3 linked regions of the Homo sapiens genome follow. The protein of the gene in region 1 purifies or fractionates together with the protein of each later gene. This does not show direct contact. Each region holds a gene or a part of one and is shown in the gene's direction. Other genes may lie near its edges. The genes, in order: NT5C3A, CA5B and L2HGDH.

Region 1 (3,653 bases):
TTCTATAAAACCAAGCAGATTTATTTTCAAGTAATCTTCATGATTAAGTTATTCATATCTTCCTAGTTATTGCAACTAAAGGAAAAATATTACGCTATTGAAGTTGATCCTGTTCTTACTGTAGAAGAGAAGTACCCTTATATGGTGGAATGGTAAGTGTATATTAGGCAGTAGGAGGATTAAAAAAAAATAATAAAACAACACTGCAGTTACAACTGATGGCTTATTTTTTACCTGTATTGCAAACAAACAGATTAATAAATTATGCAAGTTAGAGCATTGAATAACAAAATGAGCTCTAATTATCTAATCTCTCTAACAGTTTAGGAATCCTTTTGTTTTGTTTATTTAAGGTGAAGTCCAGTAGGAATAAATTAAAAGTCCTGCATTTAAGTCTCAAATTAAAAACAAGAATTTTTTTTTAAGTATATGAACAAAACGTGGCTTAATGTGTAAAGAAAAGGTATGAGGATTTAAACTGAGTCTGAACTCAGAGCCAGCAGGTGATATGGTTACCCAAAAATCGACCTTTGGTTGCATTAATCAAAATGCAGTGTTCCAGGCAGATCACACTGAAAGCACTGTGTCGGATTCTGGAAGAATGCTGTTAAGAGAAACCATGACAATAGTGACCAAAAAAAAAAAAAATAGATCATGACAAACTTAAAAGGAGTCAGAGTAGTCCACCAGAATGATCAGAGGAATTTGAGCCTTCCCACTTGACGAACATTTCAAGGAATAGAAAATGCTTTGATTTGAGAAGGAACAACTTGTTTTAAAATCTTAGGAGACCAGGAATGATTTGTCTTTATTGTCCCGTTACGTAACAGTTGCATACTTCATCTGTATTTGTGGTACTAAATGTTGAAAAGATATTAGACTTAACTCTACAAACTGGTAGCAGCAGAACTGGAACTAGACTTGGAAGATATAAGAAGATTGATTTCAGCATGAGAAATGAAAAGCCTGTCTAGCAATTAAGAGTTTTCTGGCAATGGAATAAGCTTCCCTGGGAGAATGAGCTTACTGACATGTTAGAAGCTGACCCAGGCAGGGAAGAAGGTGACTTAGGAATATTATAGGGGTATTTTTAGGTATCAGATGAAGAGTTAGGCTTTTTTTTCTTTTCGTTTCTTTCTTTCTGTTTTTAGTGGCTGTTTGCATAATTGTAATGGGTTAGAGAGTCTAAGGGCCCTTTATACTGAGATGCTATGATTATAGGTGTTTTCTACATAAAGCAGGCTAATCTGTATATGACACTTGCCATAACAAAGATTTTCTCTCTTGTTCACTAAGTAGCATCTTCAGTATGTAGAAAATTCAAACTACAAACAAATTTTAAAAATGGGGTTGCTCTAATTCATTTTACTGCAATCAGAGAAAGGATTATGCTTCCATAGGTTGGGTTGAGTTTTTATGTGTAGAATTAGGAAAGGTTTATAGCTAGTTTCCTTTCATTACCTTACTAACATATTTAAGCTAAGTCTGGGTTTGGGAGGACTGGGAAACTCAGTAAGAACATGCATATCACATTTTGAGACATGAGGTATACATTCATTAGTGATGAACTTCAATCTCTAAAATTTAAATCCAAATATGAGGAACAGATTTTCTCACATGGAAGAATGTTTTGTAATAAAGATAATAATTTTAGTTTGTCTTAATTGATAGTCTTTTTTCCTTTGGTCATAAACTCCAGGTATACTAAATCACATGGTTTGCTTGTTCAGCAAGCTTTACCAAAAGCTAAACTTAAAGAAATTGTGGCAGAATCTGACGTTATGCTCAAGTAAGTTTCTTGGATGTTTTTTGCTGTTATTGTTCACAGACTTGAATTATTGCTATTTATGTAGTCAGTTGTACTTTTTAAAAATAAGATTGAATATTCCTTATATAACCATATCCAAAATATGCCACCTATCACAAAATACATAGTGGTAAGATAAGGAATTTAGAATGACGTATTAGATCTTGGTGTAGGTAGTAAGAGCCTTATGAGATTTAAATTCTAATTTGTATTTTGTTTCTCCAGATTAAAAATGTCAAGACTTAAAATTTTTGAACCAAGGCCATTTAAAAATTTTTTAGCAAAATACTTAGGAAAGACATATGAAAGGAATGTATAAATCAAGTTAAAAGGGATTTAAGTATACTTTTTTTTTTTTTTAAAGACAGGGTCTCTCTCTGTTGCCCAGGTTAGAGTGTAGTGACATAATCTCTTCCTCAGTTCAACCTCTGCCTCCTGGGCTCAAGCGATCCCCTTGCCTCAGCCTCTCAAGTAGCTGGGACTACAGTCATGCACCACCATGCCTGGCTAATTTTTGTATATTTTTGTAAAGATGGGATTTCACCATGTTGCCCAGACTGGTCTTGAACTCTTGAGCTCAAGCGATCCCAAAGTGCTGGGATTATATGTGTGAGCCACCATGCCTGGCAGTATACTATGTCTAAATTTACATAAGCCTACTTTTTAAATTCTCGAACTTCTTTGAAAACTATTCCTAGGAAAGATTAGTATGTTTTAGTACATAATTATATATGTATGCATGAGTTATAAGATACAAGAAGCTTTTTTTTTTCTTTTTTTTTTGAGATGGAGTCTCGCTCTGTCACCCAGGCTGGAGTGCAGTGGTGTAAGCTCCGCCTCCCAGGTTCACGCCATTCTCCTGCCTCAGTCTCCTGACTAGCCAGGACTTCAGGCGCCCGCCACCACGCCCGGCTAATTTTTTGTATTTTTAGTAGAGACGGGGTTTCACCGAGTTAGCCAGGATGGTCTCGATCTCCTGACCTTGTGATCTGCGCATCTCCGCCTCCCAAAGTGCTGGGGTTACAGGCGTGAGCCACTGCGCCCGGCCCAAGAGCCTGTTTAATACTGTTTATTACCTCGTAAAATTTTCAACTCATTAGGCAAATATGATGATGTTACTTTTTTATGATGATGTTATATTTTAAGGTGATTACTTCTAAAAAGGAAAGCAATAAATTGTCAGAAAAAGTGTGAGGACAGCTAGTAAGTGTTTCATTCCTTAGTAGGCAACATTAGCATTCTTTAACCTATGGCCCAGGAAGGGTAAAAAAGGGAAGAGGGCTTAAGATCTTAGTAAAGACACATGCCAGATGTCGAGAATACATCTAAGTTCCTGCCACTCTGCTTTTCTTTTCAATTTTATGGATTTTGATGAAACTGTAAGAATATCAAGTCATTCTTCATAATTTTAAAATCTGAAAATATTTTAATCATGTAAATGTATTTGTTGTTGGTCAATATATATCCATTAAGTTAGGCCAAGTTGATAGGCCCACTATGGGACTCCATCCTTCTCAGTGTTAATATATCCATGTTTTAACCCCTAAGTGGGGTTTTCAAGGTGTAGCTTAACTATTGTTTTCTCTTTTTAAATTTCATTTTAGAGACAGGGTCTCGCTATGTTGCCCAGAGTGGACTAGAACTCCTGGGCTCAAGCAATCCTCAAGCCTCAGCCTCCCAAATAGCTGGGACTATAGGCATGCACTGCTATGCCTGCCTATTTCTTTTTAAATGGTATAAATTGTGAACTGTAGGTTTATATTCATATTCAGTGAAAGCTTAAAGACATCTAGTTTGTAGTATTAGAATTGATTAAAGGGAAAGTAAAGAGTTAACTGTTGTTTGA
Region 2 (3,653 bases), on another chromosome or scaffold:
CAGGTGATTCCTATAAATGCTAAATAGCTTTCTCAGGCAGTTTTGATCATTCTCAGCTAAGACATGTAAAAATGTTAACTTCTCTCATCTCAAATAATATAGTTGAAATGAACCTTAAGATCCTGAAACTGAATTCTTCTGGAATTCGAAAGTGGACTCAAATAGTAGCCCAAAGTAATAACCCAGGGAACATTGTGGAGCCACAGGTTGAATTAATGCAAGTTTGCGGTGGTGGGAGCCTAAATGAAGGCTGTGGCAATAGAAATAGAGAAAAAGGGCAAGATTTATCAAGCATTTCTGAAATTAAAGCAACAGGACTTGAAGGTAGGGTTCTCTTCAGGATAGGAGAAGGCAAGGTTAACCACGACTTTGTGGTGTCTCACTTGGGAGGCTGGGTGATAATGCACTCATAACTGATGAATGAGGAATGATTTGTAGGGAAATAAAGGGAGATTTTAAGGAAATAGAATTTCTTCTTACAACTTTTTTCCTAATTCAATTGTAAATGTTATGTAAAAAAAGCCCATTTAAAAATTTATTTTATATTTTTTATATTTGTTTCATTTTATTTTGCTTTGTGAGACAGGGTCTCACTCTGTCACCCAGGCTGGAGTGCAGTGGCACAATCACGGTTCACTGCAGCCTCGACCTTAAGCAATCCTCCCACCTCAAGACAACAGGCGCACATCACCATGCCCTGCTAATTTTTTTTTTTTTTTTTTTTTTTTTGGGACAGAGTTTTGCTCTGTCGCCCAGGCTGGAGTGCAGTGGCGTGATCTTGGCTCACTGCAAGCTCTGCCTCCCGGGTTCACACCATTCTCCTGTCTCAGCCCCCCAAGTAGCTGGGACTACAAGCGCCCACCACTGCGCCCAGCTAATTTTTTGTATTTTTAGTAGAGATGGAGTTTCACCGTGTTAGCCAGGATGGTCTCGATCTCCTGACCTTGTGATCCACCCACCTCGGCCTCCCAAAGTGCTGGGATTACAGGCGTGAGCCACCGCGCCCGGCCTGCCCTGCTAATTTTTAAATTTTTTTGTAGAGACAAGGTTTCACTATGTCGTCCAGGCTGGTCTCATACTGCTGGATTCAAGTGATTCTCCCACCTTGACCTCCCAAAATGCTGAGATTACAGGTGTGAGCCACCACACCCAGCCTAAAAGCACATTTTAAATGGTTATTCCTTGAAGAAGAAATTTGTCTTTAACTCCTGCATAATTTCCATATGGAGGATCTATTTCTCTCAATATAAACATCTTCTCTCCTGTAGATGCAAGTGGATTTCGAATATTGGTATTTCATTCAAATCAAGATGGGACTGGACAAATGTTGATTGCTCACTGAAGTGTCACTTTGTTATATGAATTTTCTATTTTTCTCCCCAAATAAATCCCTTTATTCTAAAATAATATTAATTGCTGCTCTTGCCTAAATTTCTTCCTGATCTTTGTTTCTATCTCATTTTGGATTGTCATATGGTTTTCTTGGTGGCTTTACTTTGGGTGAGGAAACATGTTTAAATGTCATAGGTTGACTGAGGCTGTGGGTTTATTCTGGAGAGATTCTGTATAGTCACGTGTTAACCCTCTTTTCATGGTGTTTCAGCTGCACTTAGTGCATTGGAACGCAGTCAGATTTGAAAACTTTGAGGATGCAGCACTGGAAGAAAATGGTTTGGCTGTGATAGGAGTATTTTTAAAGGTAAAATATCTCACCAACTTTAAATGACGTGTTGTATTCTAGGATGAAAAGATAGAACAGTATAATATTGTTATTTACTTTAAGAATGTTGGGATCCATACATTGGTAAGATAAATAGTGCTTGAAGTACAGGATTGTTAAGAATATATTTTAGGGCCAGGCATGGTGGCTCACGCCTGTAATCCCAGCACTTTGGGAGGCCGAGGCAGGCAGATCACTTGAGGTCAGGAGTTCGAGACCAGCCTGGCTTCCATGGGGAAACCCTGTTTCTACTAAAAATACAAAAATTAGCCAGGCATAGTGGTGCGCACCTGTAATCCTAGCTACTCGGGAGGCTGAGGCAGGAGGATCGCTTGCTTGAGCCTGGGAGGTGGAGGCTGCAGTAAGCCAAGATTGTGCCACTGCACTCCAGCCTGGGCAACAGAGCGAGACTCCATCCCCCCCACCACCAAAAAAATATATATATTTTAAATGATATAAAAATGCACAGCCCAATAGAGTGGTCACAAGCCACATGTGGCAATTGAGCACTTGAAATGTGTCTACTGCAGTTCTGGAACCATTTTTCATTTTATTTAATTTTAATTTCAATTTAAGAACTTAAATGAAGCAGGGGGCACCTTTCACTGCAGGCATGCTGACCTTGTCAGCAAACAGCCTGCTGATTTGTTCTCTAATTTAATTCAGTAATGTTTATAAAATTATAAATTACAAGTTTAAGTGTAATTTCAGTCATGCAGTTTGTTTTTATGTAATCACCAGGTAGTTAATTTTAATTCACATTCTGTTACAGTTTCTACAGTGAGATGTCCATTGTTTGTAATATTTTCTTACTTGTTGTTCTTTAGCTAGGCAAACATCATAAGGAGCTACAGAAATTAGTGGATACTTTGCCGTCAATTAAGCATAAGGTACTATTTGTTTTCCTTAATTACTTGAAATATACTTTTATGTTTCAATCTCAGAGCGGAGACATTACCAAGGCACTTTGAATTGGGAAGTTTAATTAGGTGAACTGTATTCAGCCTTAGAAGAAAACTTGCCATTTATGATTCCAGGGGACAGAAGTCATCATTCTGTGGGTAGGCAGTGAGCTTTCTGGTTTTGCTGCAGTGCCGCTGAGGACTTGGGGACTCAGGAACATATTGCTGTCCCCTCCTCTGTTCCTGACACCGGCTCCTTCTAAGTCCTTGTGAACACACCCAGAGCAGCCTTCTGTTCTGTAGCTGCCATCCCACAGGCAGGGAGCAGAGCGCAGTTCTACAGAAACTTGCCTTGTCCAGCTAGAAAGAACAGTAATCCACATCCTTCAGGTCGGATGCCTTTGTCCAGTCCCCCAATATTAATTCTTCAATATTCAGAATCTCAAAGGGCTGCTCTCTGGAGGCCCATATATTCTCTTCTTCTCCCTCTCATCCCCCACTGTATCCCTCTGGTCCCCACCTCTTTCCCTCTCCTTTCCTCTCTGGAAGCCCGTATATTATCTCCCCCCATCCCCCACTCTGACCTTCTGGTCCCTACCTCTTTCCCTCTCCTCTCATCTCCATTTTCCTGTTTTTCCCTCTCTTTCCTTTTAGTTCAGGTTTCTGGCTCCTCCTGAGCTGCATTTCTTCTTAAAAGGACAATTCTCAGTTAGCCTCTCGAAAATGCAAAGCCTCCAACCGGGCGCAGTGGCTCACGCCTGTAATCACAGCACTTTGGGAGGCCGAGGCTGGCGGATCACGAGGTCAGGAGATCGAGACTGTCCTGGCTAACACAGTGAAACCCCATCTCTCCTAAAAAATACAAAAAATTCGCCGGGCATGGTGGCGGGCGCCTGTAGTCCCAGCTACTTGGGAGGCTGAGGCAGGAGAATGGCGTGAACCCGGGAGGCGGAGCTTGCAGTGAGCCGAGATTGCACCACTGCACTCTAGCCTGGGCGACAGAGCGAGACTCTGTCTCAAAAAAAAAAAAA
Region 3 (3,653 bases), on another chromosome or scaffold:
CTGCTTGTTGCTCTACCTCACTGTGGCTGAGCTGGTACCTAAGGTGTAAGACAAAGTCCCCTTTACTTTTATCTCTGCTTTTCTCAAACAGAAGGAGTCTTTCACTGTAGCCACCACAGCTGGGAATGTGCTGGGTCACACCTGAAGCCAGCACATCTCAGAGTCTCATCCAAGGCCCATGACGCACTCCTTGGGTATCGCTGCTGGTTATTCAGGGCCCAAGGGCTCTTTAGTCAGCAGGTAATGTATCCTGCTAGGACTGGGTTTTTCCCTCCAAGGCAGTAGGTTCCCTTTTGGCCCGGGGTGGGTCTAGAAATGTTGTTCAGGAGCTAGGGCCTATAATGCGGGCCTCACAACTCTGCCCAGTGCCATATCCTACTGTGGCTGAGCTGGAATCCAAGATGTAAGACGGTCCTCTTTACTCTTTGCTCTTTGCTCCTTAAGCAGAAGAAAGGAGTCACTTCTATTGCAGCTGCCTTTGTTTGGGGGATGGATGATGCAAGCACTCTTTTAGCTATGCCGGCTGGTATCTCCCTAGATCACATGCCACCCTAGTCCACTGACTATAAGCCCAGCCTAGTGCTAGTAGCTGAGGAGTTGGAGTCCTTGTGCCCTAGACTGTATTTCAAGTTTATCTAGGACCCCAGAGCTTTTCAGCCCACGGTGGTGAGGCTTGCAGGGAAACTCAAGTTCTGACCACTGGGATGGATGCTTCCTGTCTAGCTGGGGCAGGTCCAAATGCTCCCTCCATGTGCTGGCGCTGGCTGAGCCCAGCCCAGCTTTATTCTCCACTGTGACAGGGCAGCACTGAGTTCAGTGTAAAGGCCCCCAGCCACTGTACCCTCCCTTTCCCAAGTGCATAGGTTCTGTCTCCACACCACATGGCTGGCTGCTGCTAGGGGGTGAGGGAGGGGTGGCATTGGCGATGCAAGACCATCTTTTCTGCCCTCCTCAATGCCTCTTTCAAAGATATGAAGTCAAAACCAGCCACTGTGATTGCTCACCTGATTTTTGGTTCTTGTGACGGTGCTTTTCTGTGTGCAGATAGTTAAAATTTGGTGTTCTAGCAGCCGAACCAATGTTTGTAGGCTTCTTTTCCACCGTCTTGCTCCACTCACTCCCATATCTGATTCTTACTTGGAAATTCTTACAGCTAAAAAATCTCTTGTCCAGATTCCCTGCAGGATTCTATAGGGAAGATCACTTATCTTTATCATACAACCTTTCACTCTTACTGTTATAATTCTTATTTACCTCTCTACGAATGAATAGTATAGCTCTGTGATTTCAGGCAAGTTACTTAATCTCTCTGTGTTTCTTTGCTGTTAAATATAAACTGTGTCAGCCTCTTAAGAGTTGTTTTGAGGATTAAATGAGGTAATTCCTAGCACAGAGTAAGCACTTACTAAATAATAGCTATTACTATTATCTCTCTTCAGCCAGCTGAAGTCTTAGAGGGCAGTGCCTTCATAGTGTTCTTTGTATCTTCTGCAAGTACTTATCTGATTTGTCCCAGAATTAGTAAAAAATGTTTAATATTGTTTCCTGATTTCTTGAGCCTTGCTGGTGTGTATAAGATAGAATTTTTCACACTGGGCTTCCTTGGACAAGTTTCATAAGAGGTGCTTTTTTGTAGTTCAAAAACATTGGATTCAAATTTCATCTGTAAATTTTAACTGTTTAAAAAAACAACAAAAATCTGTGAGCTCAAATGTTATAAAATAGAATTTTAAGTAATAAAGATTATCAGTGTCTTTACAGTTGTTCACACCTATAATCCCATCATTTTGGGAGGCTAAGGTGGGAGGATCACTTGAGGCCAGGAGTTTGAGACCAGCCTGGGCAACGTAGGGAAACCTTGTCTCTACAAAAAAAAATTTTCTTTAATTAGCCAGGCGAGGTTGTGTACACAACCTGAGCAACAGATCAAGACTATCTCAATTAAAAAAAAAAAGACTCTCATTTTATTAACATGCTGCTAAATTTATTTTTATGCTTTTCCTATCATCTTTTGAAATTGAAGATGATCCTGATATTGAAGGGTAAACTCTTAAAAACAAACTGCAAAACAAGAACTTGTTGCCATTTGCAAATATTTCTCTCCATAAATTTTAATTGTGTGAATTTTAAAAACACAAAAATAAGTAGAATAGGATACAGGAATGCAACTGACACATAACCTCTGCTTTCATTGATTTGTATTACTCAGATGAGGCTTATTGTTGCCATTGATTGATTTTTATAATAAATTCATTCTATAAATTTAAATAAAAATATACCTGTTCTAATTAAGTGTGGATTTACCTACTACCTTTGGAAAGAGCAGACATTGATAAATAACTTACTTGTTTTTATGTATTTCTTTGATAAGCGTTTGTTACACTATTGTTACGTAATAGGTTTTAGGCTCTAAGCTAACAATATAGGTTTGACAGGCTACAACTGACAGCCTTTGGTTAAACATAAACTCATTGGGTTTCCATATAATTGTGCATTTAGAAGAATACTTTATTGCTTTAAGACTTTTTGGAAACGCTGACTTGTAAAGTATCCTATGTCTTTGAGTCAGCTGACTCCCATCTTTTACTTTTGCAGGGGCCCAGCTGGAGTAAGAGCCCAGGCCCTGGATAGAGATGGAAATCTGGTAGAAGATTTTGTATTTGATGCAGGAGTTGGGGATATTGGAAATCGCATTCTTCATGTGAGAAATGCACCTTCTCCTGCTGCTACTTCTTCCATTGCAATTTCTGGAATGATTGCAGATGAAGTACAACAAAGATTTGAATTATAAATAATGAAAGGAGCTAGGTATGCACTGTAATCTTCATGTCAGCAACAAGAATGTACTAATTGCATTCTTTAATTTAAAAAATGGTTTTTAAACTTTAGTTTTTAGGTCAAAGATAACCACTGCATTGTTAAAATGATGTAACATAGAAATAATAATTTTCTACAAAAATTAGCCAGGCATGGTGGCGCATGCCTGTAATCTCAGCTACTCAGGAGGCTGAGGCAGGAGAATCAATTGAACCGAGCAGACGGAGGTGAGCTGAGAGCTGAGATTGCACCACTGCACTCCAGCCTGGGTGACAGAGCAAGAAAATAATAATAATAATAATTTTCAAAATGTTAGGCTGGGGGCCGTGGCCAGCACTTTGGGAAGCCAAGGCAGGTAGATTGTAGCCCAGGAGTTTGAGAACAGCCTGGGCAACATGGCAAAACCCTGTTTCTACACAAAGTTAGCTGGGTCTGGTGCCTCTGTAGTTCCAGCTCCTCAGTAGGCTGAGGTGAGAGGATCACTTGAGCCCAGGAGGTCTAGGCTGCAGTGAGCTTATGTTCATGACACTGCATTCCAGGCTGGATGATAGAGCAAGATCTTGTCTCAAAAAAAAAAAAAAAAAAAAAAAAAATCCAGCCTGGGCAACATAGTGAATGAAACCCCATCTCTACAAAAAATACAAAAATTAGCTGGGCATGATGGTGTGTGCCTGTAGTCCCAGCTACTTGGGGGCTGAGGCAGGAGGATCGCTTGAGCCCGGGAGATCAAGGCTACAGTGAGCTGTGTTCATGCCACTATACCCCAGCCTGGGCAACAAAGTGAGTCCCTGACTCAAAAAATAAAAACAACAACAAAAAATAAATTCCATGCTTAT

What was found.
Region 2: the proteins of NT5C3A (region 1) and CA5B fractionate together in Homo sapiens (co-fractionation; one large-scale study listed by BioGRID). This does not show direct contact.
Region 3: the proteins of NT5C3A (region 1) and L2HGDH purify together in Homo sapiens (affinity purification with mass spectrometry; one large-scale study listed by BioGRID and IntAct). This does not show direct contact.

Annotation. Positions count from the first base shown.
Region 1 is NC_000007.14:33,017,771-33,021,423, reverse strand, and holds part of NT5C3A (cytosolic 5'-nucleotidase 3A), read left to right. Parts: intron 1-66; coding exon 67-152; intron 153-1,699; coding exon 1,700-1,789; intron 1,790-3,653. UniProt on the Homo sapiens protein: Nucleotidase which shows specific activity towards cytidine monophosphate (CMP) and 7-methylguanosine monophosphate (m(7)GMP). CMP seems to be the preferred substrate.
Region 2 is NC_000023.11:15,772,699-15,776,351, forward strand, and holds part of CA5B (carbonic anhydrase 5B, mitochondrial precursor), read left to right. Parts: intron 1-1,603; coding exon 1,604-1,699; intron 1,700-2,547; coding exon 2,548-2,610; intron 2,611-3,653. UniProt on the Homo sapiens protein: Mitochondrial carbonic anhydrase that catalyzes the reversible conversion of carbon dioxide to bicarbonate/HCO3.
Region 3 is NC_000014.9:50,246,196-50,249,848, reverse strand, and holds part of L2HGDH (L-2-hydroxyglutarate dehydrogenase, mitochondrial isoform 1 precursor), read left to right. Parts: intron 1-2,595; coding exon 2,596-2,791; 3' UTR 2,792-3,653.